Linked DNA regions of Homo sapiens. The protein of the gene in region 3 purifies or fractionates together with the protein of the main gene of each other region. This does not show direct contact. Each region holds a gene or a part of one and is shown on either strand. Other genes may lie near its edges. The genes, in order: ATP13A2, EPHX1, PCDHGC4, SC5D, ABCD4, SNX14 and ZDHHC18.

Region 1 (3,500 bases), on a different chromosome or scaffold from region 3:
TGTCCCCTTCTCCATAGTGGATCGTCATCTCAGAACCTGCCGCAGTCAGCCTAGCCAGAGAGACCAGGTCCAGGAATTGGAGGTTCTGCCCAAGGCTTGGGTCACAGATTGGGGCCCCACTCATAGGGATTGGAGGCCAAGAGGCAAATCCACGCAGCCTGAGCATCTATGGGGTCCCCAGAGACACGCCCTAGAGCCTGGGTCCTCTCTGTGCGTCCTCCACTTTCATGCTCCCAACAGTCCCGTGGGTTGGGCCTGGGACTGCACTGTTCACACCTGAGAAATCCAAGCTTCAGTTGGAGGCTGTGACATGGCCAAGGTCACACAGGGACAAAGAGAAGCCAGTGACCTGGACACAACTAGAATAAAGTGTGAACATCCCAGCCCTCTGATCGGGGGCAGGCACCATGAAAGAGATCTTTGAGTCTGGCCCCATAGAAATCAGTCTGTCACTTAGAAGCTATGTGGTTTTTTGTTTTTTGTTTGTTGTTTTTTTTTTTGAGACAGAGTTTTGCTCTTGTTGCCCAGGCTGGAGTGCAATGGCGTGATCTCGGCTCACTGCGATGTCCACCTCCTGGGTTCAAGTGATTCTCCTGCCTGAGCCTCCTACATAGCTGGGACTACAGGCGCCTGCCACCACGCCCAGCTAATTTTTTTTTTTTTTTGTATTTTTAGTAGATACGGGGATTCACTATGTTGGCTAGGCTGGTCTCAAACTCCTGACCTCAGATGACCCACCTGCCTCGGCCTTGCAAAGTGCTGGGATTATAGGCATGAGCCACCGCACCTGGCTGGAACTATGTGGTTTTAGGCCAGTGGCTTCACCTGTCCATGCCTTGGTTTCCTCATCTGTAGAATGGAGCTAATGGTGGTACCGGCCTTGTAGAATTGTCATTGCCATTGTATGACACTTAGATAAAGCACTTGGCGTGTAGTGGGGGTTCAGTAAATACCCTTATCCTATTTATTTATTTGTTTATTTTTTTTGAGACAGGGTCTCCCTCTGTCACTCAGGCTGGAGTGCAGTGGCGCGATCTCAGCTCACTGCACCCTCCACCTCCCCAGCTTAAGTGATCCTCCCACCTCAGCCTCCTGAGTAGCTGGGAGCGTAGGCACAGGCCACCCCATCAGGCTAATTTTTGTATTTTTTGTAGATATGGGGTTTCGCCATGTTGCCCAGGCTGGTCATAAACCCTTGTCCTCTTTAGAGCGGAGAAACTGAGGGCCCTGGGGATGTCTGGTTGGGTGGGGATGGGATTGACCAGGAGAAAGGCCTGGCTCCAGTCCTTTGGCAGCCACTGGGCCCTCTGCTCCCATGGGCACAGGAGACCCAGCCTGTGGCTGGGCTGCCCTGGGGGACGCGGCCCTGACGCTGCCTCCCGCCCCTCCCCCAGGCACTGAACCCCTACTATGGGTTCCAGGCCTTCAGCATCGCGCTGTGGCTGGCTGACCACTACTACTGGTACGCCCTGTGCATCTTCCTCATTTCCTCCATCTCCATCTGCCTGTCGCTGTACAAGACCAGAAAGGTGAGTGCCATAAGGTGGGTGGGGACGGGACAGGTGGGTCCCCAGGGGCCCCCACCCACTCACGGCCCTCTTGTCCCCTGCCCACAGCAAAGCCAGACTCTAAGGGACATGGTCAAGTTGTCCATGCGGGTGTGCGTGTGCCGGCCAGGGGGAGGTGAGGAGCTAGGGCCCAGGGGGCGGGGGCAGGAGTGGGAGGGTGGGGGGGCATGGCTGGGGCTGGCCCCACCTAGCTGAGCTCCTCTCCTGCCTGCCTGCAGAGGAAGAGTGGGTGGACTCCAGTGAGCTAGTGCCCGGAGACTGCCTGGTGCTGCCCCAGGAGGGTGGGCTGATGCCCTGTGATGCCGCCCTGGTGGCCGGCGAGTGCATGGTGAATGAGAGCTCTCTGACAGGTGAGCCCCCAGCCCCTGGCCTGCAGCTTCCTTCCTCCCCTGCCATCCAACCCTTTGCCCTGCGGCAAAAGTTTTCATTTGAGTTTCCTTTTCCTTTTTTGTTTTTTTGTGAGACGGAGTTTCACTCTGTTGTCCAGGCTGGAGTGCAGTGACATGATCTCAGCTCACTGCAGCCTCCACCCCCCAGGTTCAAGTGATTCTTGTGCCTCAGCCTCCTGAGTAGCTGGGACCACAGGTGCATACCATCACGCCCAGCTAATTTTTTATTTTTAGTAGAGATGGAGTTTCACTATGTTGCCCAGGCTGGTCTTGAACTCCTGACCTCAGGTTATCTGCCCACCTCGGCCTCCCAAGGTGCTGGGATTTCAGGCGTGTGCCAGCGCTCCGCCTCCTCTTCCTTTTTCTCTCAAGCAACAATCCCAGCTTTAGGACTTGCTAACCTCACACCCCTGGGCCGTTACCACGTATCATCTCCGTGCCTCAGTTCCTTCTTCTGTAAGATGGCTGTCAGTCACTCCTCCTGGACAGAGTTGTGCAAAGTGCTTAGGAGCGTGAGAGGTGCAGCATAAATGGCCAGCCACCCAGTGCATCTGGGCTATTTCTCCTTTTTTTTTTTTTTTTTTTTTTTTTGAGATGGAGTTTCACTCTTGTTGCCCCGGCTGGAGTACCATGGTGCGATCTCAGCTCACTGCAACCTCCACCTCCTGGGTTCAAGCGATTCTCCTGCCTTAGCCACCCAAGTACCTGGGATTACAGGTGTGCGCCACCATACCCGGCTAATTTTGTATTTTTAGTTGAGATGGGGTTTCACCACGTTGGTCAGACTGGTCTTGAACTCCTGACCTCAAGTGATCTGCCCGCCCCAGCCTCCCAAAGTGCTGGGATTACAAGCATGAACCATAGCACCTGGCTGCATCTGAGCTGTTTCTATACCAGTGCCCACCTTCAGGTCATAAAGATTCCAGATGGCACAGGAGAGTGGGAAGCCCTCTCCCAGAGTGAGAGACTGCGGTCCCCATTCACTACCCCACAGTCCCCTTCCCTTCCCCTCCCCAGGGCAGCCACTGTGAAGGGTGTGAGGTGTCTTCCACGCCTTTTTCTGCATTACGTGTGTGCACATGGGCTGATTTGCCTCTCCTTTTGTTCTGAACGTGGGATTGTATGCTGTGTATTGTTCCATACTTTGCTTTTTCTCCTGGCATCCTTCCACAAGCACGGATGGCCCCACCTCATGGCTGCATGAGAGTCCACAATACGGATGTATCGTAACTGACTCAACCGGCCCGCTCGCCATGAGTATTTAGAATGTGATTTTCCAGCCATTGCAAAGGACGCCACAGGAGCAGCTTTGTCCTGTGTCTCTTGATGTGTGCAAGTATTTCTTTCTCTGAGATGTGTTATATTTTGGTGGTAGATACTGGAGAGAGTTTACTAAAAACCACAGGATAGTGGTTTTTTTCCAGGGAAGTTTTCTGGCTGGCATTGTATTTGTATCACAAATCGTAGGCCAGGCGCAGTGGCTCGCACCTGTAATCCCAACACTTTGGCAGGCAGAGGTGGGTGGATTGCCTGAGGTGAGGAG
Region 2 (2,470 bases), on a different chromosome or scaffold from region 3:
CCTCACATCTTGCTCCAGGTATCCGTGTGCAAGGAGCAGGCCAGACCCCCTGCCAAGGTGGTCTTGCAGAAGCTCCATCAACCCCTGTGTCCTGCTGAATGTAGGGCAGGGGAAACAGATCCCAGACGAAGGCCCTGCTGAGGCTCTTGGAGGAGGTGAGGACCTGCCTGCAGGAATGAGTTTGCTTTTGATCTGGCCCCAGTGTACCTGCTTCAGCCTCTGGACAAGCCACCCTTTCCAAGCACCCTTTCCTTGCATTTTTATTGCTTTTCTCTTTGCCTAAGTTTCTCTCCTCCATCCAGCAAACTCCTACTTATCCTCCAAGGCCCAAATCAGATACATTCTCCTGGTCATTTCCCCTCTCTGCCGCTTAGACAAAGAATCCTCCTTCCACTGGACTCTCACAGTCCTTTGCGCATTCATTCAACATCTATGTACTGGGCTCTCCCACTGTTCACCCGGCATTGTTCTAGGTGATGGGGCTACAGCATGGCCAAGACAGAGTCCCTACCCCCAAGGCAGGATTCAGTCTCATTTTACTGTCTTTCCCATCCCCAGCACTGTCTGGTCCTGTGTGTCACTGAAGGAATAAAGGGATGGGCCCTGGAAAGGGTGGGTCAGAGCTGACCTTGGTGAAGCCTGAGTCAGGCCACAGAGCTGGGAGTCAGGCATGTAGAGGATACAGCCTCTAAGGCTCTGAGAGATTAACAGCCTCCTGTCTTTCTGCGACCACCCTCCTGGAACACGCAGTCACGTGACCCTGATGCCAGGCTCTCCAGGGAATCAGGAGGAAAAGCCCAGGTGCTCTTGACAATAATGTGGTGCCTGCTGCCCTGTGGGCTCCCTAATCCCCAGAGGGGCCTGTTCAGCAAAAGGAGCACAAGCAGGTGAGCCTGCATCCTAGTCTTGACCATGCACTGTGAGGCTGGGAACAACCCACCAGGCCACCTCACCCAAAAAATGCAGCTACGTTGGTCACAGGGTGAGGATTTGTAAGAAAGCCAACAATAGAATTTGCTGAGTGCCCCATGCAGAGCAACCAGACAAGGGGATGAAGAGGGTGAGGAGGTTGGCTGCTGGGACCAGGGTCATGACTGCAGGGGCAAACCAGGGCCTCACCTTTCCAGGCCTCCATCCTCCAGGTATCGGAATTCCGTATTGGTCCAGGTGGAAAACTTCTCTAGAATATAGGCAGCCAGACCCACAGGAGAGTCATTCAGAGCAGAGCCTGGCGGGGAGCGGGGAGCAAGGGAGAGACTCAGGCCTGGGGACCAGAGAGCTGGAGCTTCAGGTGTGATGTGTGGCACTGGCCGCAGAGGGCGGGGCTGTGTGCAGGAAGCCACGTTCGAGCACAGGCCTGCCTTAACTCCTGGGTGCTCACATGCCTCGCTTCCTTAACTCTGCCTCGGCATCCTCATCTGATAAACAGGGACGATACCTTCCCACTGTCTCCCAGGGCCTGGCACACTGCCTGCTCAGCTTCCTTCAAACTGAAGGGCCTACGCCTCTGCATTTGGTGGGGTCCCAATGAGAAGTGCTGTTTTTAAAAAGGCGGGGTTTTTCAGTCTATGTGCTCTGATTCATGAAAAATGAGAAGCCACCTAAAAAAGTCTAAAATAGGGGATCAGTTACAAATATTGATATACTCATAAGCCAAAATACTGTACAGTCATTAAAAATGGCTGGAACAGGCTGGGGGCATTGGCTCATGCCTGTAATCCCAGCACTTTGGGAGGGTGAGAAAGGTGGATCACCTGCGGTAAGGAGTTCGAGACTATCCTGGCTGACATGGTGAAACCCCATCTCTATTAAAAATACAAAAAAATTAGCAGGGCATGGTGGTGCATGCCTGTAATCCCAGCTACTTGGGAGGCTGAGGCAGGCAAATTGCTTGAACCCGGGAGGTGGAGGTTGCAGTGAGCCGAGATCGTACCACTGCACTCTAGCCTGGGCAACAGAGCAAGACTCTGTCTCAAAAAAAAAAAAAAAAAAGGCTGGGACAGTGGGACAGGCTGGGTGCGGTGGCTCACACCTGTAATCCCAGCACTTTGGGAGGCCGAGGCGGGTGGATCACCTGAGGTCAGGAGTTCGAGACCAGCCTGGCCAACATGGTAAAACCCCGTCTCTACTAAAAATACAAAACATTAGCCAGGCATGGTGGCAGGTGCCTGTAATCCCAGCTACTTGGGAGGCTGAGGCAGGAGAATTGCTTGAACCTGGGAGGCGGAGGTTGCAGTGAGCTGAGATCACACCACTGCACTCTACCCTGGGCAACAGAGCCAGACTGGGTCTTGAGAAAAAATAAATAAATAAAGCTGGGACAATGGCATAAATGAATCTCACAAACATAATATTGAGCAAAAGAAGCCAGACTCAAGGGTATATACTCTGTGATTCTATTCATAGGACTTAAACAGGCACAATCAAAACCATCTCAGTCAGAAGTCAGAGCGTGGTACCTGGGAGAGAA
Region 3 (4,152 bases):
GGCATGACCCGCCCCCAATGCTAAACTGTGACAACTCTGGTTAATTCACGAAACAGTTACAAAGCACAGCGTCTACCACATAGTTACCTCTTACAAAAATGGTGACATCACTATGGGCACTTACTGAGAGGCCAGTACTCTCTAGGACATGGCCTAGCCATATGCCTGGATCAGAATAACCCTCAAGCATTTGTTGAGCCTGCAAAGGTCTCACCTCTAGCCCATAGAGAAGATCAGAGGGTGGGCAGCTTGGGCGAACAGGCTCCCCTGCCATAGGTGCACTGGGTGACTTCACCATCATGAAGCTATCACTCCGAGTGGGTGCAGAAGCCAAGGGTGTACAGCCATGAGAGTGGCCTCCCACATCAACAAACTTGATAGGGTCATCTGACCCTAGCTGGATTCGGAGGATCCCATTGGAAGGGGGAAGCCCCTCCCTCCTTCGAGATCTGGTGAGACAGGCACAGGTGCCAGCAGGAAAGCATGTGACTCCACAGGCTGCCCCACGAAGACACTTAGAGAGTAGTGCCACGAATGAGCCAAAGGAGACAAAGCAAATTGCCACTAGGGACACAGCCAAGTAGAGGGTTAGACGAGATTCTCCTTCCCTTGGAGCTGAAGATTCTCGAAGATCTGGGACAACTGGATGAGTGTCTTCCTCTAAGGACACTAAGAGAGTAACAGAGGTAGAGAGTGGTGGACTACCACTATCCTTTACCACAATGACCAGCTTCTGTGGTGGGAGGTCAGCTGGGATAGGAACAGCCGTCCGCACCTCCCCAGCATATCGAGAGACTGCAAACAGGCTGGGATCTGGGGCCTCCAGGAGCTGATAGGAAACCCAAGCATTGTAACCTGAATCCAAGTCCACAGCAGTCACCTTTGTGATTAGGTGGCCAGCACCAACTGATGGAGGCAGTGCTTGGGGACATAAGGAACCAGGCCGGGCCCGAGGACGGAGCACAGCTGGAGCATTGTCATTGAGGTCCAGCACAAATAGACGAACTGTTACAGTGCTGCTAAGGGGTGGGTTGCCCCGATCCCGGGCCTGCACCTCAAACTGCAGTGTCTGGGTTTGCTCATAGTCAAAGGATCGAGTAGCATGAACAGCTCCTGTCTGGGGGTTCAGAGAGATGAAAGAGGAAGCTGATACATCTCGATTCCTGGGCTCCAGGAGTGAGTAGGAGATAAGCGCATTCAAGCCAGAGTCTGGGTCAGAGGCTGCAAGGGAGCAAAGCAGGTCCCCTGGGCGATTGTTCTCAGGAACAAACACCTCATGTGACCTCTGAAAGAAAGAGGGTGGATTATCATTCACATCTGAAATATTGAGGAAAATAGTTCTGTGGGTACTGAGAGGAGGGTTCCCAGCATCAGAAGCAGTGACCATGATGTCATAGCTAGATTTGGCCTCTCGATCCAAGGGTCCAGCAGTCACCAGGGAGAACTGGTTCCTGAAGGCAGACTTGAGGGCAAATGGCAAGTGGTCAGGAATGCGGAGGCTCACATCTCCGTTTGACCCTGAGTCTGGATCCTGCACACTGATAAGTGCCACCACAGTGCCAGGTTCTGCACTCTCGGGGAGGGTTCCAAGCTCTGAGGTCACTGTGATGTAAGGGGCATTGTCATTTACGTCCAGCAGATCCACTCGAAGGCTGCAATGTTGCTCCATGGCTGGAGAACCCCCATCGCGAGCCCGCACATCAAATTCATAGTAATTCTCACTCTCAAAGTCTAGGGGCCCCAAAAGAGTAAGCTTTCCAGTAGTGGGGTGCAGGCTAAAGAGGTTTCTTACACGATCAGGGGTATGACCACTGAAATAAAAGGTGACGTTACCACTGGGACCCAGGTCCGGGTCTGAGGCATTGAGCTGGATGAGCACCATGCCCGCTGGTGCGCTCTCCAACACACTAATCCTGTAGCTGGATTGCTGGAAGGCTGGGGCGTTGTCGTTTACGTCCAGCACGGATACCCGGAGCTCTGCGGTGCCAGATCTCGGCGGGTTCCCTCCATCGACAGCAGTCAGCACCAGGCGGTAGTCCGATTGCTTCTCTCGATCCAAAGGCTTCTCCAGGAGCAGCTCTGGGACCAGGCTGCCGTCGCTGCGCTTCTTCACATCCAGTGCAAAGTGTTCATTGGAGCTCAGCCTATAGCTGCTAATCGAATTGCTCCCCACATCTGCATCCTGAGCCTTTTCCAACGGGAAACGCTGTCCTGGAGGAGCTGCCTCCCCAATTTCCAAGTCCAGCTGCTGCCGCGGAAAACGGGGGGCGTGATCATTCACATCTACGATCTCTACCTCTGCTCGGTACATTTCCAAAGGACCTTCGGTGACAAACTCCAGGGGCACGATGCAGCTGGCACTGAGCCCACACAGTGCCTCTCGGTCGATTGGGTTCTTGATGAGCAGGGCTCCGCTGTCCAAATCCACACGGAAGTGTCTTTGGTTCACCTCTCCAGCGACCTGCAGCCTGCGAGCTGACAGACTGTCCGTATCCAGCAGGAAATCTTGAGCGACATTCCCTACAAAAGTCCCTTCCTGTGACTCCTCTGGGACCGGGTAGCGGATCTGCCCACAAACGTAACCCAGGTGGTAAAAGAGGAACAAAAGGGTAGCCCACCGCCAGATTTCTGTCCAGCTTCTCACCTTGCGGAGCATTGCTGCCGCCCGCTAATTCTCTACTTGCTCCTGAGACGCGGATGAAGCCGACCCGCCCCAAACAGCCACAGCAGCTGGAGACACCTATCTCCCTTTCCCCGCGCCAGCTCTGGCGCGGTTCGGCCGGCGCCGCAAGGGTTACGCGCCGTTTTTGCTGGTGGCGGGGTAGATTTGTCTGCCTTTCACCACCCGATTGGCAGACAGCGGCTCCCGGGCTCAGCCAATAGGCTGAGCAGAGAACGTCCCAACAGCAGCAGGGTTAATGCGTCGCAGCATTGGAGGGGAAAAAGCCCACCCTATCCTCCACGCTCCCCCACCCCCCAAAAAACCCAGCCTATCTTTTCGCCTTCCTCCCGCTCAACGGCATGTTTTTCCACGGGTTGTTATCTCTGTGGGGAGGCAGACAACATATATATATATATACATTTTTTTTCCTAACACACCGACTGACCCCGCCCCTTTTCGGCGGGGAAAACAGCCACAGCCTGAGCCCTAGCAACCTGCGGCCCACTGAGAGGGAGAGTAGCCATTGGAGAGTGGTCACTTTGTTCAAGCCAGTGTTGTCATCAACCAGTATTCTAAATGAGTAGCTTCCGTCTCAGTCTGATTGTATTGGAGCAACTGCTAATTAGAACCACTGCCATATACTCAAAACTCTGCCCTTCTGCAGAATATTCAGAAACGGATCCATCTCTTTGCAGAAAAGGCTTACACATTAACGTAGCCAATTAAATTTATGCAGTACATGTTCTCATTGTAACAGGAGACACAGCGGAAACCAAACCTTTCTTATTCAGACATTTGCTAGTGATACACTAGATACACTAAATTACCATTCATTGATTTCAAGGACAGTATGGAAGCGGGGTGGAGGAAGCCAGGAGAGGGAGATGTTTCAAAACAGTAAAGAATCAGTGTGTCTGGGAGGTGCTAAGGACCAGATCTCTTTACCTGGCAGAATGCTAATGTTCATAGATTTAATAGCTTCCTTGAATGATTGAGATCAGCTACCAACAGCATTGTGCCTACAAATTCCCTTTATCTGACACCAAGGTATTCTTGATCTTTTGTTAATTACCAACGAAGACCATTTCAAAAGAGCAAGCTTTTCACTTAGCCCCAGGGGACCTCTTGGAGCTGGAGACTTGATCTCACCCCACCCCCACCCTCATCCAGACCTCCCAGCAACCTAGCTACTCCCTTGCACAAGCACAGAAACACAACACAATTCACACCGTAGGTACCTACGACCTGCAATCTGAGTGGGAAACACACCAGAGCTCAGAGAAATAGAAAAATCCATCCTGATCTGGACATGAAATTTCTTAATTCAACCAAGTCCTTACCTAGGTTACACTGGCTGCCAAAAAAAGCAGCAACAACTGGAGTTCTTATCCTTCCCCAATATTTTTCCAAGCCTCGATCCTCAGGAATATCCTTTTGACTATGGTGGGAACCAATATTCTGGTGTCAAAAAGAGGAATCTGGCTTTCTGT
Region 4 (4,140 bases), on a different chromosome or scaffold from region 3:
GTAAGGAAATGAAAAGACAAGCTAAATTGGAGTAAATATTGGTAATACATACATCTAACAAAGAATTTTTGTCAATATATACAAAATCTTATAAGTCAATAACACCAAAACAACCTAATTTTTAAAATGGCCAAAGATTTAAACAGATACTTTACAAAAGATATAAAAAGTTTGAAAAAGAAAAAAAAAAAAAGCAGGAGAAAAGGTGCTTAACATCATTAGTCACAGGAAAATGCAAATTAAGCCACAGTGGGACACTACCTCACACCCACTAGAATGGTTACAAATAAGGACTGACGATACTAAGTGTTAGTGAACATGCGGGAAAAATGGAATTCTCATCATTGGGAGCAGGAGGGTAAAATGGTACAACCCTTTGGAAAATAGTTTCACAGTGTTTTATAAAATTAAACGTATACATATATATCTCTTCCCTATGACCCAGCAAATCTAATAGATATTTACCAACGAGAAATAACAACATATAGCCACACAAAGACTTGTATACAAATGTTTGTAGCAACTTTATTCATAATAATCCCACGCTGGAAATAACACAAATATTCATCAGCAAATACATAAACCAACTGTGGTATATTACAATGAAATACTATTCAGCAATGAAAACAAAAAGCTACAGACACAGGCAACAGCAAATATCTCTAAACATGTTAAGCTAAAGAAACTAAACACAAGAGTATATACTATCTGATTTAATTTATATGAAATTCTAAATCAGGGAAGAAAACTAACCTTCCAGTAACAGAAGGTGGATCAGTGGTGACCTAGGGCTGGGGAGAATGACTGCAAACGGAGAGGAAATTTATTCTGGTAAGAAAATGTTCTTTACTTTGATTGGGGGTGGTGGTTACATGGGTGTACACGTTCATCAAAGATCATTGAACTCTACAGTAAAAATGGCTACACTTAATTATAGTAAATTATAATTTCATTAAGTTGATCAGAAAGAAAAAACGTCCCAATGAAGCGACAGACAAAAGTCACCACACCAGTGTCTGTCTTAATATTTGAATATGCACTAAATTTCTAGGTTTCTATTTGTTTCATACCACATGTCAGGGGGGCAAGTTTACATCTAAATAAATGGCTTAATGAGTTAAATTATAATAGAGGAAGATATTTTTATATATATATACTTTTTTATTTTTAGAGATAGGGTCTTGCTCTGTCACCCAGCGTGGAGTGCAGTAGTGCAATTATAGCTCATTGCAGCCTAAAAGAGGAAGATATAACAAAATTATTCAAGAAATGAATAAAAGCCTATGGTATGAGTGCTTTCCAACTGAGTGATTAACTTTTGATATGCTATTTTGTCTTTGTTTGAATCGTGAGTTGTGAAGTGTTTAGAAAAATCTGTCAAGTACACAAGTCTGCTTTTTTGGTAGTTGGATCAAAATATTAAATCTCTTATCAAATGTTTAAGAAAATGTGATTAATAAAATATGTAAATGGTATTAAATGTTCAGGATAATTGGAATTTACAAATTGTTAAAGAAATGGGAATGTAATTTCTCATTTTTATCAAATTTACTGTTCTTATATCTTCAAGTTGAGCTTAGAGATTTAAAAATGCTGTATTTTAAATGTATTTTAATAAAGCAAATATTAAAACAAGTATTTATAAGTATTTTTCTTCCCATACCAAAAGCCTGCTTTGACAGTAAAGCTTGTTGACACATGGTTCAAACACTTCCTTCCTGCCTTTAAAAAATTTATTCTGCTTTTCAAGGAAGGTATGTTTCTATTTTATCTACAAACCTTGTAGACTGGCCTTATGGTTTTAGCAATATAAAAACACACAAAGTGATGCATTTTTTAAATGAAATTATTTAACAACACAATGTATTTTACCACTCTTACAAAGATAACTTACAGTAAATAATGTTAACGATGTTAGTTTTACTTATACGATTTTTCTGTGTACCCTCTATCTCTACTTCACCTCAATGTCTTTCACCCTCCAATTTTAAGGTGAAAATATCTAGGCTTCTGCCCTCTGCAACTGATTTCTATTGAGGGCCTATGGAGGTAAAATGACAATAATCATTGAATCTAGAAAGAAAAAGCATCAAGCACAATTTACATGAACAATAGTTTCAGTTGACATTTAACTGAATGCTTCTAACTTATTTAATCTTATTAGATAGGCAGTGTTTTAATCAATTTACAGATGGAGAAACCAGGGATGGTGCAACTTGCAAGTGGCAGAGCCCTGTTTATCTCCAAAGTTCCTGTTCCTCTGAGATGAAGTTATAGATTAACCTAAGTTTGTCCTTTCTTGATGTAACCAACTAATATCTTTGAGGATCTTTTTTCTTTTACCCAGAGTGCTGTGTTAAGTGCTGAGTATACAGATTCATTCAACCCTCTAACCAGTCCTTGTAGTACTGATTCATCTGTGGTCAAAATCTGGGGTACTGGTGGGTTTTGTTTCCAAAGGGTTATGACTTTGAGTGACTAAAAAAAGATAGTTTATCCTTGATGTAGGGACCATCTTTGATTTCTCATTACTTCCCCTTTTGACCCCTCCAAAGCACTTAGCAAATGTCAGCTAATGAATAAATGATAAAAAAATGGTTGGCCAAAAAGACAGCATCAGAAGAGAATTTTTACCTAGTGCAGTGCTTAGCACCTATCAGGGATTTATTAAACATATATGGAAGAGAATGACATTTCTGCCATTTTATTAATAAATTCAACAAAGTATTTATTGAACTTTAACCATGGCTTGGGCATTTGTTAAGGATGAGTGGTTTAATACAATGATGATTCAGACACGGTCTCTACTTCCAAGGAATCTGGCATCTCAAATAGGTAAGACACACATAAAAGTAATAGGTGATAGCAGTAAGTGCTGAAATAAGACTGTCATTCAAGTGTTGTGAATTTGAAGAAGTTGGGAAGATCAGGAATGCAAATTTCTTCCCCCTTGTCTTAGTCCATTTGTACTGCCTTAACAAAGTATCTTCAACTGGGTAATCTATAAATAATAGAAATTTATTTTCTTACAGCTCTGGAGGCTGGGAAGTCACGGTTAAGCACCAGTTGGTTTGGTGTCTGCTGAGTCCCCAGTTGCTGCTTTCAAGATGGTACCTTGTTGCTGGGTCCTCACGTTAGAAGGGACAGAAGGGGCTGGGCATGGTGGCTCACACCTATAATCCCAGCACTTTGGGAGGCCGAGGCAGGCAGATCATGAGGTCAGGAGATCAAGACCATCCTGGCTAACACGGTGAAACCCCATCTCTACTAAAAATATAAAAAATTAGCCGGGCGTGGTGGTGGCGGGCACCTGTAGTCCCAGCTACTCGGGAGGCTGAGGCAGGAGAATGGCGTGAACCCGGGAGGTGGAGCTTGCAGTGAACCAAGATCACGCCACTGCACTCCAGCCTGGGGCAACAGAGCAAGACTCCATCTCAAAAAAAAAAAAAAAAAAAGGGACAGGAGACAGAAGGGCTGAACAGCTGCCTCACACCTCTTTTTAAGTCATTAATCCCAGAGCCCTCATGACTTAATCACTTCCTCAAGGCCCCACCTCTACATACTATCTCACTGGCAAATACATTTCCACATTTGAATTTTGGAGGACACATTCAGACCACTGCACCCCTCAAGTTGGTTAGTGTCTTTGAATATCTTTTTTCATGCTGTGACAATCTCATGGTTTCAAACTTTTCTTCTATCTGTGTTAATCCCAAATATCTTTGTTCTCAGTCATCTCCCTAGTTTCCATCTTTCTCCCAGACCTCCTCTCTACATAAATAACCTGCATGCACTGTAAAATCCATGTATCAAAAAACTGAACTTGTGTAATTCTCTTCCAAATCTGTCCCCAGCTTCTAGAAGATGGGAGGAAAACATGATACAAGGGTATAAGGAAATTCACTCAGTACTGCAGAGACAGCATGGAAGACAAAGACTCAGTCTCTGTGTTTCTGAAAGGTCTTCTCGAACCATATCCACCCACTTCTCAATTTCTACCACAAAAGTAGAAAACGTAACCTTGATTTTCACTTTCTGTCCTGTAACTATAAAAGTCATCTGTAGAAGGTAATTTGGGTCCTCACTTCCATAAATATTCTCTGACTTCCTCTAATAGAAAGTAGGAGAATGTGGCAGTAC
Region 5 (3,500 bases), on a different chromosome or scaffold from region 3:
ACAACCATGACAGAAGGAGAGGACATGACCTAAGGAGGACCAGCTCACCTGAGTCGGGGTAGACCTCCTTCAGGGGATATATCACCTGAGAAAAGAAAAAAACCACACCAACCTAGGAGGGCGAGCAAAAGACGGAGCTGCACACAGCCCACCCTCCCTCCAGAACCCACTGGAACCTCCCAAGGAGGAGAGGTGGGAACGCCTGGCCTGGGTCAGATGGGAGAGGCTCTGGCCGGCAGACAGCAGGGCAAGGTCCCTACAACCTTCAGAAGTGTGTTTAGGGGGAACAGTCTGACAGCCTCCTGAGGGCAGGGGCCCCAGAATCCGACCTTGGGTGTTTGACATACGCGTGTGGTATTTGGCGTGAGTCCTTGCCCCATTTACCTGCCTCAGGAGCTGCTATGAGTAGTGGGCCCAATCCATGGATGTGAATAGAAGGTTCTTAGAGCCAGCAGTTCCCAGGCCCGGGCCACTTCACCACCTCACCTTTTGCCCTGACTCTAGGACCTGAGACTTGTCACAGTGCCAGAGGTCCCAGCTGTGGGTGGGCGGGGTTGAGGAGGGAGGAGTGAGCCCCCTGAACTAGACTGACCTGCTCCCGAAGGGTCCCGTCAGTGAAGAATGGCTTTTGTGGCAGGAATAGCACCCCATGGGGCCCAAAGTCCGTCAGCATCTGCACTGAGCCTGCAGAGCCCACAGAAACCTCCATTGTGAGATCTCCCAGAAGAGGCAACTGCCTGTCTCCTCTCTTCCTTGTTCCCCAACAGAAAAGAATGGATTCTACCACACCGTCCCCGCCTTCACCCCACCCCTAGGGCCCAGGCTGGGTCAGAGGCAGGGAGGGCCTGGCTCTCACCCCGTGTACTCGTCCAGAGGCCACCCAGAACCCGGAGCAAGGAGGTCTTGCCAGTGCCCGTGTTGCCTGTGATGAGCAGGCTCTGTCCCTCGGAGATCTTTAGGCTCAGATCCTTGATTAGGGGTTTGTCAGAGGAGGGGGCAGAGATGGAGACCCGCTCAAGGAGAAATGCTGTGTCTGCTGGCTCTGCCGCTGGCCACCCTGGGGGTCTGTGTCAGAGAAGAGAGGGGGCGTGAGGAAGATGGGCAGGGTCAGTATTGCTGTGGGGGAGGCACTGCTCCCGGGAGCCACCACCTGTGGATTATTATGGGCTGACTTGCATCCTCCCAAAATCACATGCTGAAGTCCAGCCCCCTAGTGACTCAGAATGTAACTGCATTCGGAGGCAGGGTCTTTTTTTTTTTTTTTTTTTTTGAGAGAAAGTCTTGCTGTCACCCAGGCTTGAGTGCAGTGGAGCTATCTCAGCTCACTGCAACCTCCGCCTCCTGGGTTCAAGCGATTTTCCTGTCCCAGCCTCCTGAGTAGCTGGATTACAGGTGCCCACCACCGTGCCCATATTTTTAGTAGAGACAGGGTTTCACTATGTTGGCCAGTCTGGTCTCGAACTTGTGACCTCAGGTGATCTGCCCACCTCAGCCTCCCAAAGTGGTGGGATTATAGACGTGAGCTTCCGTGCCCAGCTGGAGGCAGGGTCTTTAAAGAGATGATGTTAACATGAAGTTGTTGGGGTGGGACCCTAATCCAATATGACTGGTGTCCTCTTAAGATAGAGGTGGCAGGGGCACGCACATATAAAGGAAAGGCCACGTGAGGACACAGCAACAAGGTGGCCATCTACAAGCCAAGGAGTGGCCTAAGAAACCAACCCTGCTGACAACTTGATCGTGGACCATAAGCATCCAGAATTGTGAGGAAATTAATTTCTATTGTTTAAGCCAGCCGGTTTGTGGTTTTCTGTCATGGCAGCCTGAGCACATTAATACAGGGGTAGGGGTGGAACTTCTACTCTCTGCCTGGCTGGACAAAGCCCCTTATGGGACTGATCTTACTCAGTCTAATGCCCATGAGTCTCAAATATCATCACAGATGAGGACACTAAGAATCAGGTGGCTAAGTAACTGCCCAGGTTGCAGAGCGGTATTCAACAAATTCTAATGCTGGTGGGTCTTCATGGCATCACAGTGTGACCAGAGTACTAATAACAAGAATGGGAGTGGTTAAAGCTAAATGGTTCTGGAGTTTCTGCCTCTGCATGGATGCCTGGCTCCCCACAGAACAGCAATTCCAGTTTCCTACAGACCCTCCTTCATGCCCAGCCTCTGCACTCATGGTTGCATGAAGCTTTCATTTGGAACAGAAGCAACAGTTAAGGTATTAGCTCCTAAGAAAAGCAAGTTGAGTGTAGGCCCTGGAATTCAGACTGATTTTTGAAAGCTTATGATGTGGCCACTGTCCAAGCACTTTCCATGGATGATGATATCTAATCCCTACAACAAGTGAAGGAAGTTCATTATGACCTCCTTTTCAGACATGAAGAAACAGAACAGTTAGGTAATCTGCCCAAGGAAAGTGTGGAGATCAAGCAAATCCTGAATGCACAGAAATATTACAGATCCACGCAGACACACGGATACAGACATCTCTGGGGCTGAGTGAGGTGGGGGAACAAAGACAGACATGCCCCAAGGAAAGGGGCAGGGAGAGGAATCAGCGGGAGGAGGAAGCACAGGAAGGGGAGGACACTGCAGATTCCTGTTATCTCAGGCAGAAGGTGTGTGTACTTTGCTTCCACTGGCCGGGGAATGGTGTAAATTAACACAACAGATGCCGGAACAGCAACATCGACTGTGAACTTACATGTGCCTGGCATTCCATTTCCATTTACTCCTTACAACTCTGCTGCCCAGCTGGGAAAGGGCAGGACTCCAGGGTAACCCAAGCCAGGTGATGCCACAGCCTGCAGCCTCAACTACTGCTCTGCCAGCCCGCTACTCACGTGTCCAAGCCCCACTCGCTCTCGCCCAGGATCTCGCAGTCCTGTGACTTCAGGGACATGTCCAGAAGCGTCTCCCGAAGCTGCCCAATTCTGAACAAGAAAAGAAAATCTGAGGCAGGGTCTGGGAGCCAGGTGAAGGTGAACTCCTTTTCCTATCTCACACCCACGAGTACATGGTATGTCTCTGTTCCTTTTTTCACTCAGCCACTTCTGCCAGCAGCACACACTTTGCTCAGGAGCCAGAGGGGTGGGACACGGCCTCACCTGTGCGTGTAGCCAGCCACATCTGAGAGCGTCGTGGACAGGTCGATGAGCTGGGTGAAGCAGCTGATGAGGTAGATGCACACAAAGGCATTCTGGACAGGATGGGAAGAGGTCAAGCAGGTCTCGACTCGAGCCCACAGACACTGGGCCAAGGACAGAGAGGGACAGCATGTGGGGTGACCAAGAGGGAGTCTCACCTTGCTGACCAGGGTGCTAAGCTCTGCGGGACTCAGGTCTCCATAGACCCCGCTGAAAATGGGGATTGCGATGACAACGTAACTCAGGATGCTGCCCAGATAGTCAAAGGTGTTGATGCCGACTGTAGAAAACACATCTGTGAGACACCCAGGAACCATCCACATGCCCTACAGCGGACACAACCCT
Region 6 (3,500 bases), on a different chromosome or scaffold from region 3:
CATGCCTACGATTGAGTGCTAGGCACTGGGAATATAAGGATACATTCCTTGTCCTCAAGAAGGTGTTTAGTGCCAAGGTGTAGTGCCCAGCATGGGGAGCTATGGAAGCTCAGAGGACCTCTATCTTTTATTTTTGTTAATACTCTGAATGGTATCTTTAATATTATTAATGTTTTCATTTTATAACTTGTATATATAGATAGAAAATTTTTATTTAGTCGTCTTGCTAGACTTAACATTAGTTTTAGTAATATCTGGTAATTCTTTTATATTGACACAATTGTTGCAGATGATTGCAGTTTTGTTTTATTCCTGACTAGGACTGCTATATAGAAAGGAAATTGTTTAATTATTTCACCATCGAATAGTGTGGTGTAGCTCTTTTTGTATTAATAGATAACCTTTATAAGATTAAGGAAGTTGCCAGGTGCAGTGGCTCACATCTGTAATCCCAGCACTTCGGGAGGCCAAGGTGGATGGATCACTTGAGGTCAGGAGTTTGAGACCAGCCTGGCCACCTTGGTGAAACCCTGCCTCTACTGAAAATACAAAAATTAGTCAAGCGTGGTGGTGGGTGCCTGTAATCCTAGCTACTCGGGAGGCCGAGGCAGGAGAGTCGCTTGAACCTGGGAGGTGGAGGTTGCAGTGAGCTGAGATCGCGCCACTGCACTTCAGCCTGGGGGACAGAGCAAGACTCTGTCTCCAAAAAAAAAAAAAAAAAAAAAAGATTAAGGAAGTTTACATTCATGTTTATGGGTAGAATATAGCCTATAATTTTTCTTTCTCATTCTGTCCTTGTTAGGTTTTGGTATCAAAGTTTTATTAGCATTTTTTATTTTTGGTAGACTTTTTATAAATATTTGATAGAGTTGGTAAAGTCATCTAGGCCTCCAGTTTTGTTTGTAGGAAGATTTTTTATAACCAATTTAATTTCTTTAACAATTACAAAATTCTTCAGGTTTATTACTTCATGAGTCATGAAGGTTACAAAATATAACCTATTGAACTCATGCTAGGAATGCTAGGAATTTGTCAGGGAGAAAAATAAGAGAAGAGCTTATAACATGTAAAGGTGTTTATTAAAATATTGTTTACATAAGTGAAAAATTGGAAACAACATGAAATTCTAACATTGTAGGAATGATTATTTTAAGGAACATCTATTCAAGGAGTGTTTTGCAGCAGATGAAATTGTGCTTATGAAAACTATAAAGCAACATAAAGATATTTGATATGGTGCTAAATGAAAAAGTAGGATGTGATATTTTTTGAACCTCATTGATTTGTGGCTATGTATATAGAGAGTACAAGTTAATATACAAAAGTTTAATAGTAACACTATTAGGTGGTTGAGTTTTAATTTAAAAGTTTAAATGCCCCTTTGCTCTGTGTCACTTTATTTAGCCTTAGTGATTATTGTCAACAGATGTAATAAACTGTATATCTCTTTATTATTTCAACTTTTATTTTAGATTTCTGCTTAAAAATAATGCAAACCGTGCTGAAAATACAGAGGGAAAACAAAATTGAGTTGTTTTTCCCGTTTTCCAGACTTACTATATAATATCACTGTTTTTTAGTGAAAAAAAAAATTACACTGAAAATTTAAAAGAGTAGAGGGAATAATATATCAGAAGGGAGAGCCCTTTTCCTATTTTTTGGGTTGGGGAAAAATGTTTTAAGTATGTGTCTGTGTTAATAATATCTGACATAAGAGCCAATAGAATATATGGTCTTTGTTCTCAGGATACTTTTCTAGGAGGCTTTTAAAAAATTCATCTTCAGGTAAAATCGAATATACTTTCCTCCACAGTCTCCTTACTTCTCTTCCCTCTCCCCTCCCCTCTTTCTCCCTTTTCACAGAGTCTCACTCTGTCACCCAGGCTGGAGTGCAGTGGTGCAATCTCTGGCTCACTGCAACCATTAATTCTTAATATCTTGTTTTAGTTCCCCCCCACCCCAACATTGATTAGGCCTTTGTGGGCTTTGAATATTGTCCAAATAAATTTCACCTAACGCTGGATTTTTACCTCTACTTATAGTGATTTATAATCTTTAAATCATGTTAGTGTTTTTTTTTTTTTTTTTTTTTTTTTGACGGTCTTGCTCTGTCACCCAGGCTGGAGTGCAGTGGCACGATTTCGGCTCACTGTTACCTCTGGCTCCCAGGTTCAAACTATTCTCCTGCCTCAGTCTCCCAAGTAGCTGGGACTACAGGCACGCATCACTACACCTGGCTAATTTTTTTGTATTTTTAGTAGAGATGGGGTTTCACCATGTTGGACAAGCCGATTTCAAACTTGCGAGCTCAGGTGATCTGCCTGCCTCCGTCTTCCAAAGTGCTGAGATTACAGGCGTGAGCCACTGCGCCTGGCCTAAATCATGTTAGTTTTAAAGTTAGCTATCAATAATATATTTGTACATCTTTTTATGTTACTTTGCTTTTGTGGTATGTAAAAACAAAGGGGTCTTTAATGGATAATGAATTATCTACTGTAACTAAAATGAATATTTTAGTTTTTATGTAATATTTTTGGGGAACATGTATTTTTTATTGCAATTCGGGGCATAAATGGGGAATTTTAGAAGCATATATTAACCTATCTAATATTCTGTTTTGATTGGAAAAAGTTTAAATGCCTTTGCTGTGTGACACTTAATCCTTATTGATTATCGTCAGCAGATGTAATAAACTATATATCTCTTTATTATTCCAACTTTTATTTTAGCTTTTCAATGATCTGTTTAAAAATAATGCAAACCGTGCTGAAAATACAGAGAGAAAGCAAAATCAGAATTATTTTATGGAGGTGATGACTGTAGAAGGAGTCTATGATTACCTGATGTATGTAGGTAAGATCTAAGTGGTTTAAGACTTGTTTTTCATTCATCTTACTTCTTCTGTGATGCAAATAATGATCTTGAGTATTGCCCCATCATAACTGTCTTTTTAATTGAAGATACCTTTTATAATAATTCAATACGATTGGCCTTGATCATATTAAAGTTGCTAGTGTTTACAAATAAAATATTGACCATGGTCATTTGTGTTTTCTACATTGGCAAATTTCAAAAATACCAATTCATCTGGAACAATGAGGTATCCCATTTGATCCTTTCTCAGGACGGGTAGTTTTCCAGGTTCCTGACTGGCTTCATCATCTCTTAATGGGAACTCGAATCCTCTTTAAAAACACCCTGGAAATGTATACTGATTACTATCTTCAGTGTAAACTAGAACAGCTATTTCAGGAGCACCGTTTGGTCTCACTCATAACACTTCTCAGAGGTTTGTATTTTCTAATGTGTTTGTTTCATATTTTGTGTACTCTATGATTTTAATTGAATCTAAAGAGGAAGAAATCTTGTTTTGCTTTGGTTTATTAGTATTTCTACTATGAGGAAATCCTTTGTGTATAAATAGATGAAAATTCCAGAAATATTTCTTTTTACTCTTTTTTAGATGCTATATTCTGTGAAAACACTGAACCTCGCTCTCT
Region 7 (4,002 bases), on a different chromosome or scaffold from region 3:
AGTGAGCCATGAGGCCACCTGCAGGAAGGGGATTCCAAGCACTGGCCCAGAGGTAGGAGTGTGCACGGAGGATGACATGCCTGGAGGGAAGACGGGGACAGAAGACAGCAGGGGACAGAGGCCAGGGAGGATTCAGGCCTGAGTTAGAATCAAAAGGGCACTCTGGCTGTTGTGTGGGGGCGAGAAGTAAGGCAGAAGTTGGGAGCCCTGCTGGAGGCCTGTGCAACAATCCACCAAGCCAAACAAAGAAGCAAAGCCATTCATAGCAGGAAAGGCTTAGAGAGCACCTTACCTTTTCCCAGAGCAATGGGGAGCATCCAGTCCAGACCCAGGTGAGCTCTCGGCCCAAACCCAAACTCTTCTGCCAATCTACCAGCCCCCAATGAGGACAAGCGGGGACAAACTGCAACATGGTTCACGAGCTCTCCCCAAACCCAGAAGTCCTTGCTTTCTCCCTCGCTGGGGACAAAACAGTCACCAGTGAAGATACCCGGTCAACCCAGAGAAGGTCCTGCTTCTAGTTCAGAAGTTAGGCCAGATATCACACTGCAGGGTCATGTGGGTCAACCACGGCAAGTACTGCTTCCTCCTGCCTCGGCTGCAGCCCTGGGTGTGGGGACTGAGAGGGCAGCCCAGGGGATACTAGAAAAGGCATTTCCAAAACACTCATGTGGCCAGCCCAGGGAAGTGGATCTGAAACTCAGCCCAGAGCTGAGCTCTGGGCCCCCCAGAGCTTCTGCTTGTAAATCATCCCTGAACTTTTTATCCACCCTACTCAAAAAAAAGGGCAGAGTGTGTGGTTAAAGGGTAAAGGGAGAAGCTAATTTATAGGAAGTCTTCACCTTGCTTCAAGGGGAAACCCAAAGTTGCAGATACATGATCTGGCAGCTAGAAAGGGTACCTGGGGGCGGGTGTCTCTATGATAGCCTTACCATGGCCACATGCCCTTGGGAAGTGTTTTTTGATAAAGACAACACAAGTACTAATAGCAGCCAACATAGTGTGCTTGTTACTGGGCTAAAAGCTTGCATGTGTGACCTCATGCCACCCTCAGGACAACCTTACGGGGTGGGTACTATTATAAATCCCATTTTACTGATGAGGAAACTGGGGCACTGAGGGGGTGAAGTGACTGCCCTGAGGTCACGCAATTAGTGGGTGGTGGAGCTGGGATTTGAACCAGGTCTGTTAGAGTTCTTAACTACACTGTATAATTAAGAGGAACAACCACAAAGGATGGGGAGTTGGGAGGGGACAGCAGGGCTTATGAAGCAAGGGTGGGTGGGTGGGCGTGTGAGTGTGTGTGCAAGGAATCACAGTGCAGGTGGCTCAGAGGTGGGTGGAAAACTTCTAATACAAATATATGACCCTCCATCCATAAAATGGAGATTATGTGTGGGCCAATCCTGGGTCACCGGGGGATATGAAGAGGACAAAAACCTAGGGGGGCAAATATGACCTGTCACACGAAAGCACTCCGAAGTCTTTCCTGAAAAACAACAAGGCACCGCAGCTGTTGCTGATGTGGAACAGGCCAGAGGGACGTTCCAGAATGTTGAGCAGGGAAAGAAAGCCAGGTGGTCAGCAGGGGGGCCAGGGGCCTGGGAGCCGGCTGGGTGGAGGCGGGCGGGATCTGAGGGAAGGACAGGAAGCTCTGGAGAACCTAAGGAAGGTTCTGGAGAAGGAAAGGGGGCCCGAGAGGCCCAAAGATTTTGAGAAAAGATGCCTTGGGGCCTAGGGTGTGCGTGGCTGAGGGGAAGCAAAAGCGGGGTTGGTGTCTGAGACTAGAGAAAAGGAGGGGACCCTGGAGGGACCCGGAGAGGGCAGCGAGGATGACTAGGATGTTTATGGTGGGTGTGCACAGCCAAAGGACACACAAGATCTAGAAGTGGTCAGGAAGGGATACAAGGGTCAGAAAGAACTTGGGGGGTTGGCAAGAGATGGTCCAGGGATGGGTGAGCAGGAGGGGCCTGTTCAAGAAGCCCTGGGGCAGGTTCTGAGAGGGCAGCGAGGATGGGGGCCGTGGAGGGGCATGGAGGCTGGTGTTCCTGGCAGTGGCAGGCAGACAGGTGCCAGGGTGGGGTCAGGGAGAATGGAGGGGCTGGGAGGGTGGAGGGCACCAGCGCGGATGGGGTACCCAAATGGACCAAGGAGGATGGGGCATCTGGCGGGGATGGGGGTGCGCAGGGGCCAGGGGGGCAGACAAGAGGCCCGAGGAGGATCCCAAAGGGGCGGGGAGGATGAGGACCAGGGAGGCGAAGGGGAAGGCACGGAGTGCCCAGCAGGGATTGGGAAGGTGGGGTGCGCGGCAGGGGGCTGGGAGGGGGCGCCGAGGCAGCGGAACTCACTCAAAGACGAAGAAGAGGCCGGTGGTGGTGAGGATGAGCAGCAGCGTGAGCGCGAAGACGCCGCCGTGGCCGGCCAGCATGAGGCGGCCGCCGCAGTAGAAGCGATTGCGACCCGGGAACACCTCCCACTTGCGCCGTGGGCGGCGGCCGAGGCTCCCGCTCCCGCTGCCGCTGCCGCTGCCGCTGCTGCTCCAGCGCGGCGGGGCGGGGGCGGCGGGCGGCGCGGGCCCGGGGCCCGGAGTCGGGGACGCGGCGGGGCCGGGACGGCGCGCCCCCGGGGAGGCGGGCAGCGGGGCGGCCCCGGGGCTGATCTGCTGGTACTCGCAGTCCTTCATGCAGCCAGCCGCGGGCCTCGGCTCCGCGCCCCGCGGGCCGGCCGGGCCACTCCGGGACCGGGCCGAGCAGCGGAGGTGGCAGCGGCGGCGCGCGCGGCGCTCGCTCGCTCACTCACTGGGGCGGCCCCGCCATCGCTCCGCCCCCGGCCCGCCGCCACCGCCCGCCGCGGCCTCCCGCCGCAGCGCCCCCTCCGCCTGGGCCCGGGATGGCGCTTGGCCGGAGGCCCAGCTCTGACCCGCGGCGGGGCCCCGCAGGTCCCCGGCCCTCCCAGTCTCCCTTTTCCCTTCTGCACAAAGAGGGGGCCAGCAGACGCGCACTCGAGGGCTCTTTCTGTTCTGCAAGCAAGCCGTTTGTTGGGCGTCCACTGTGTACCAGGCACGGTGCCAAACGCCGAGATTCAGGTGGTGGACTTCGTGATCTACTTCTGGCAGTCTGTAATTCCCCAGGCTTCGCCCATCTCTGAGGGTCGAACTGACAGGCATTTGCAGAGGCAGGCAGGCGCGGGGAGGTGGGGCACACGATTTGCTTTGAAAGCCAGGACCTCTTCTACCTTGAAGTCCAGAGTGCCCACTGGAGGTGTGTGGCACACCCTCTGGCCTCGTTCACCAAGTTCTGTGTCCTGGGCCCAGGCCCAGATTTTCCTAGGTAGCACATAATGTAGAGGGGTCATGCCTGAGGGCCCCAGTGTTTTTTCAGGAATTCTGGGAGTATTCATTTTCTACTGCTGTGTAACAAGTTACCACAAATTTAAGGCTTAAAACAAACATTATCGGCCGGGCGCGGTGTCTCACGCCTGTAATCCCAGCACTTTGGGAGGCCGAGGTGGGTGGATCACAAGGTCGAGAGAGACCATCCTGGCCAATATGGTGAAACCCCGTCTCTACTAAAAATAAAAAATTAGCTGGGCATGGTGGCACGGCATCTATAGTCCCAGCTACTCGGGAGGCTGAGGCAGGAGAATTGCTTGAACCCAGGAGGTGGAGGTTGCAGTGAGCCGAGATTGTGCCATTGCACCCGGCCTGGTGACAGAGCAAGACTCCGTCTCAAAAAAAACAAAAAACAAACGTTATCTAACAGGTTCCAGGTCAGGAGCCAGAGAACAGCTTAGCTGGGTCCTCTGCTTAGTCTCACAAGGCTGCAATCAGGCTGCATTCTCATCTGGAGACTCAGCCAGGGAAGAATCCACTTGCAAGCCCATTTGGGTTATTGGCAGAATTAACTTCCTTGCGACTGTTTAACTGAAGAGGGCCTGGGATTTTTGCTGGGTGACTGTATAACTGAGGAGGGCCTGGGATTTTTGCTGGGTGTCTGCTGGAGG

Evidence for each region.
Region 1: the proteins of PCDHGC4 (region 3) and ATP13A2 purify together in Homo sapiens (affinity purification with mass spectrometry; one large-scale study listed by BioGRID and IntAct). This does not show direct contact.
Region 2: the proteins of PCDHGC4 (region 3) and EPHX1 purify together in Homo sapiens (affinity purification with mass spectrometry; one large-scale study listed by BioGRID and IntAct). This does not show direct contact.
Region 4: the proteins of PCDHGC4 (region 3) and SC5D purify together in Homo sapiens (affinity purification with mass spectrometry; one large-scale study listed by BioGRID and IntAct). This does not show direct contact.
Region 5: the proteins of PCDHGC4 (region 3) and ABCD4 purify together in Homo sapiens (affinity purification with mass spectrometry; one large-scale study listed by BioGRID and IntAct). This does not show direct contact.
Region 6: the proteins of PCDHGC4 (region 3) and SNX14 purify together in Homo sapiens (affinity purification with mass spectrometry; one large-scale study listed by BioGRID and IntAct). This does not show direct contact.
Region 7: the proteins of PCDHGC4 (region 3) and ZDHHC18 purify together in Homo sapiens (affinity purification with mass spectrometry; one large-scale study listed by BioGRID and IntAct). This does not show direct contact.

Annotation. Positions count from the first base shown.
Region 1 is NC_000001.11:16,998,429-17,001,928, reverse strand, and holds part of ATP13A2 (polyamine-transporting ATPase 13A2), read left to right. Parts: intron 1-1,394; coding exon 1,395-1,529; intron 1,530-1,616; coding exon 1,617-1,683; intron 1,684-1,786; coding exon 1,787-1,918; intron 1,919-3,500. UniProt on the Homo sapiens protein: ATPase which acts as a lysosomal polyamine exporter with high affinity for spermine. Also stimulates cellular uptake of polyamines and protects against polyamine toxicity.
Region 2 is NC_000001.11:225,841,124-225,843,593, reverse strand, and holds part of EPHX1 (epoxide hydrolase 1), read right to left. Parts: exon of another isoform or gene 2,407-2,470; intron 1,229-2,406; coding exon 1,120-1,228; intron 1-1,119. UniProt on the Homo sapiens protein: Biotransformation enzyme that catalyzes the hydrolysis of arene and aliphatic epoxides to less reactive and more water soluble dihydrodiols by the trans addition of water.
Region 3 is NC_000005.10:141,483,678-141,487,829, reverse strand, and holds the start of PCDHGC4 (protocadherin gamma-C4 isoform 1 precursor), read right to left. Parts: upstream 2,801-4,152; 5' UTR 2,657-2,800; coding exon 215-2,656; coding exon of another isoform or gene 41-214; intron 1-40. UniProt on the Homo sapiens protein: Potential calcium-dependent cell-adhesion protein. May be involved in the establishment and maintenance of specific neuronal connections in the brain.
Region 4 is NC_000011.10:121,309,771-121,313,910, reverse strand, and holds the end of SC5D (lathosterol oxidase), read right to left. Parts: 3' UTR 501-4,140; downstream 1-500. UniProt on the Homo sapiens protein: Catalyzes the penultimate step of the biosynthesis of cholesterol, the dehydrogenation of lathosterol into 7-dehydrocholesterol (7-DHC).
Region 5 is NC_000014.9:74,289,435-74,292,934, forward strand, and holds part of ABCD4 (lysosomal cobalamin transporter ABCD4), read right to left. Parts: intron 3,436-3,500; coding exon 3,314-3,435; intron 3,209-3,313; coding exon 3,117-3,208; intron 2,943-3,116; coding exon 2,853-2,942; intron 1,066-2,852; coding exon 857-1,065; intron 685-856; coding exon 593-684; intron 86-592; coding exon 49-85; intron 1-48. UniProt on the Homo sapiens protein: Lysosomal membrane protein that transports cobalamin (Vitamin B12) from the lysosomal lumen to the cytosol in an ATP-dependent manner. Targeted by LMBRD1 lysosomal chaperone from the endoplasmic reticulum to the lysosomal membrane.
Region 6 is NC_000006.12:85,513,859-85,517,358, reverse strand, and holds part of SNX14 (sorting nexin-14), read left to right. Parts: intron 1-2,729; coding exon 2,730-2,853; intron 2,854-3,124; coding exon 3,125-3,289; intron 3,290-3,463; coding exon 3,464-3,500. UniProt on the Homo sapiens protein: Plays a role in maintaining normal neuronal excitability and synaptic transmission. May be involved in several stages of intracellular trafficking. Required for autophagosome clearance, possibly by mediating the fusion of lysosomes with autophagosomes.
Region 7 is NC_000001.11:26,825,486-26,829,487, reverse strand, and holds the start of ZDHHC18 (palmitoyltransferase ZDHHC18), read right to left. Parts: upstream 2,801-4,002; 5' UTR 2,684-2,800; coding exon 2,349-2,683; intron 1-2,348. UniProt on the Homo sapiens protein: Palmitoyltransferase that catalyzes the addition of palmitate onto various protein substrates, such as CGAS, HRAS and LCK. Acts as a negative regulator of the cGAS-STING pathway be mediating palmitoylation and inactivation of CGAS.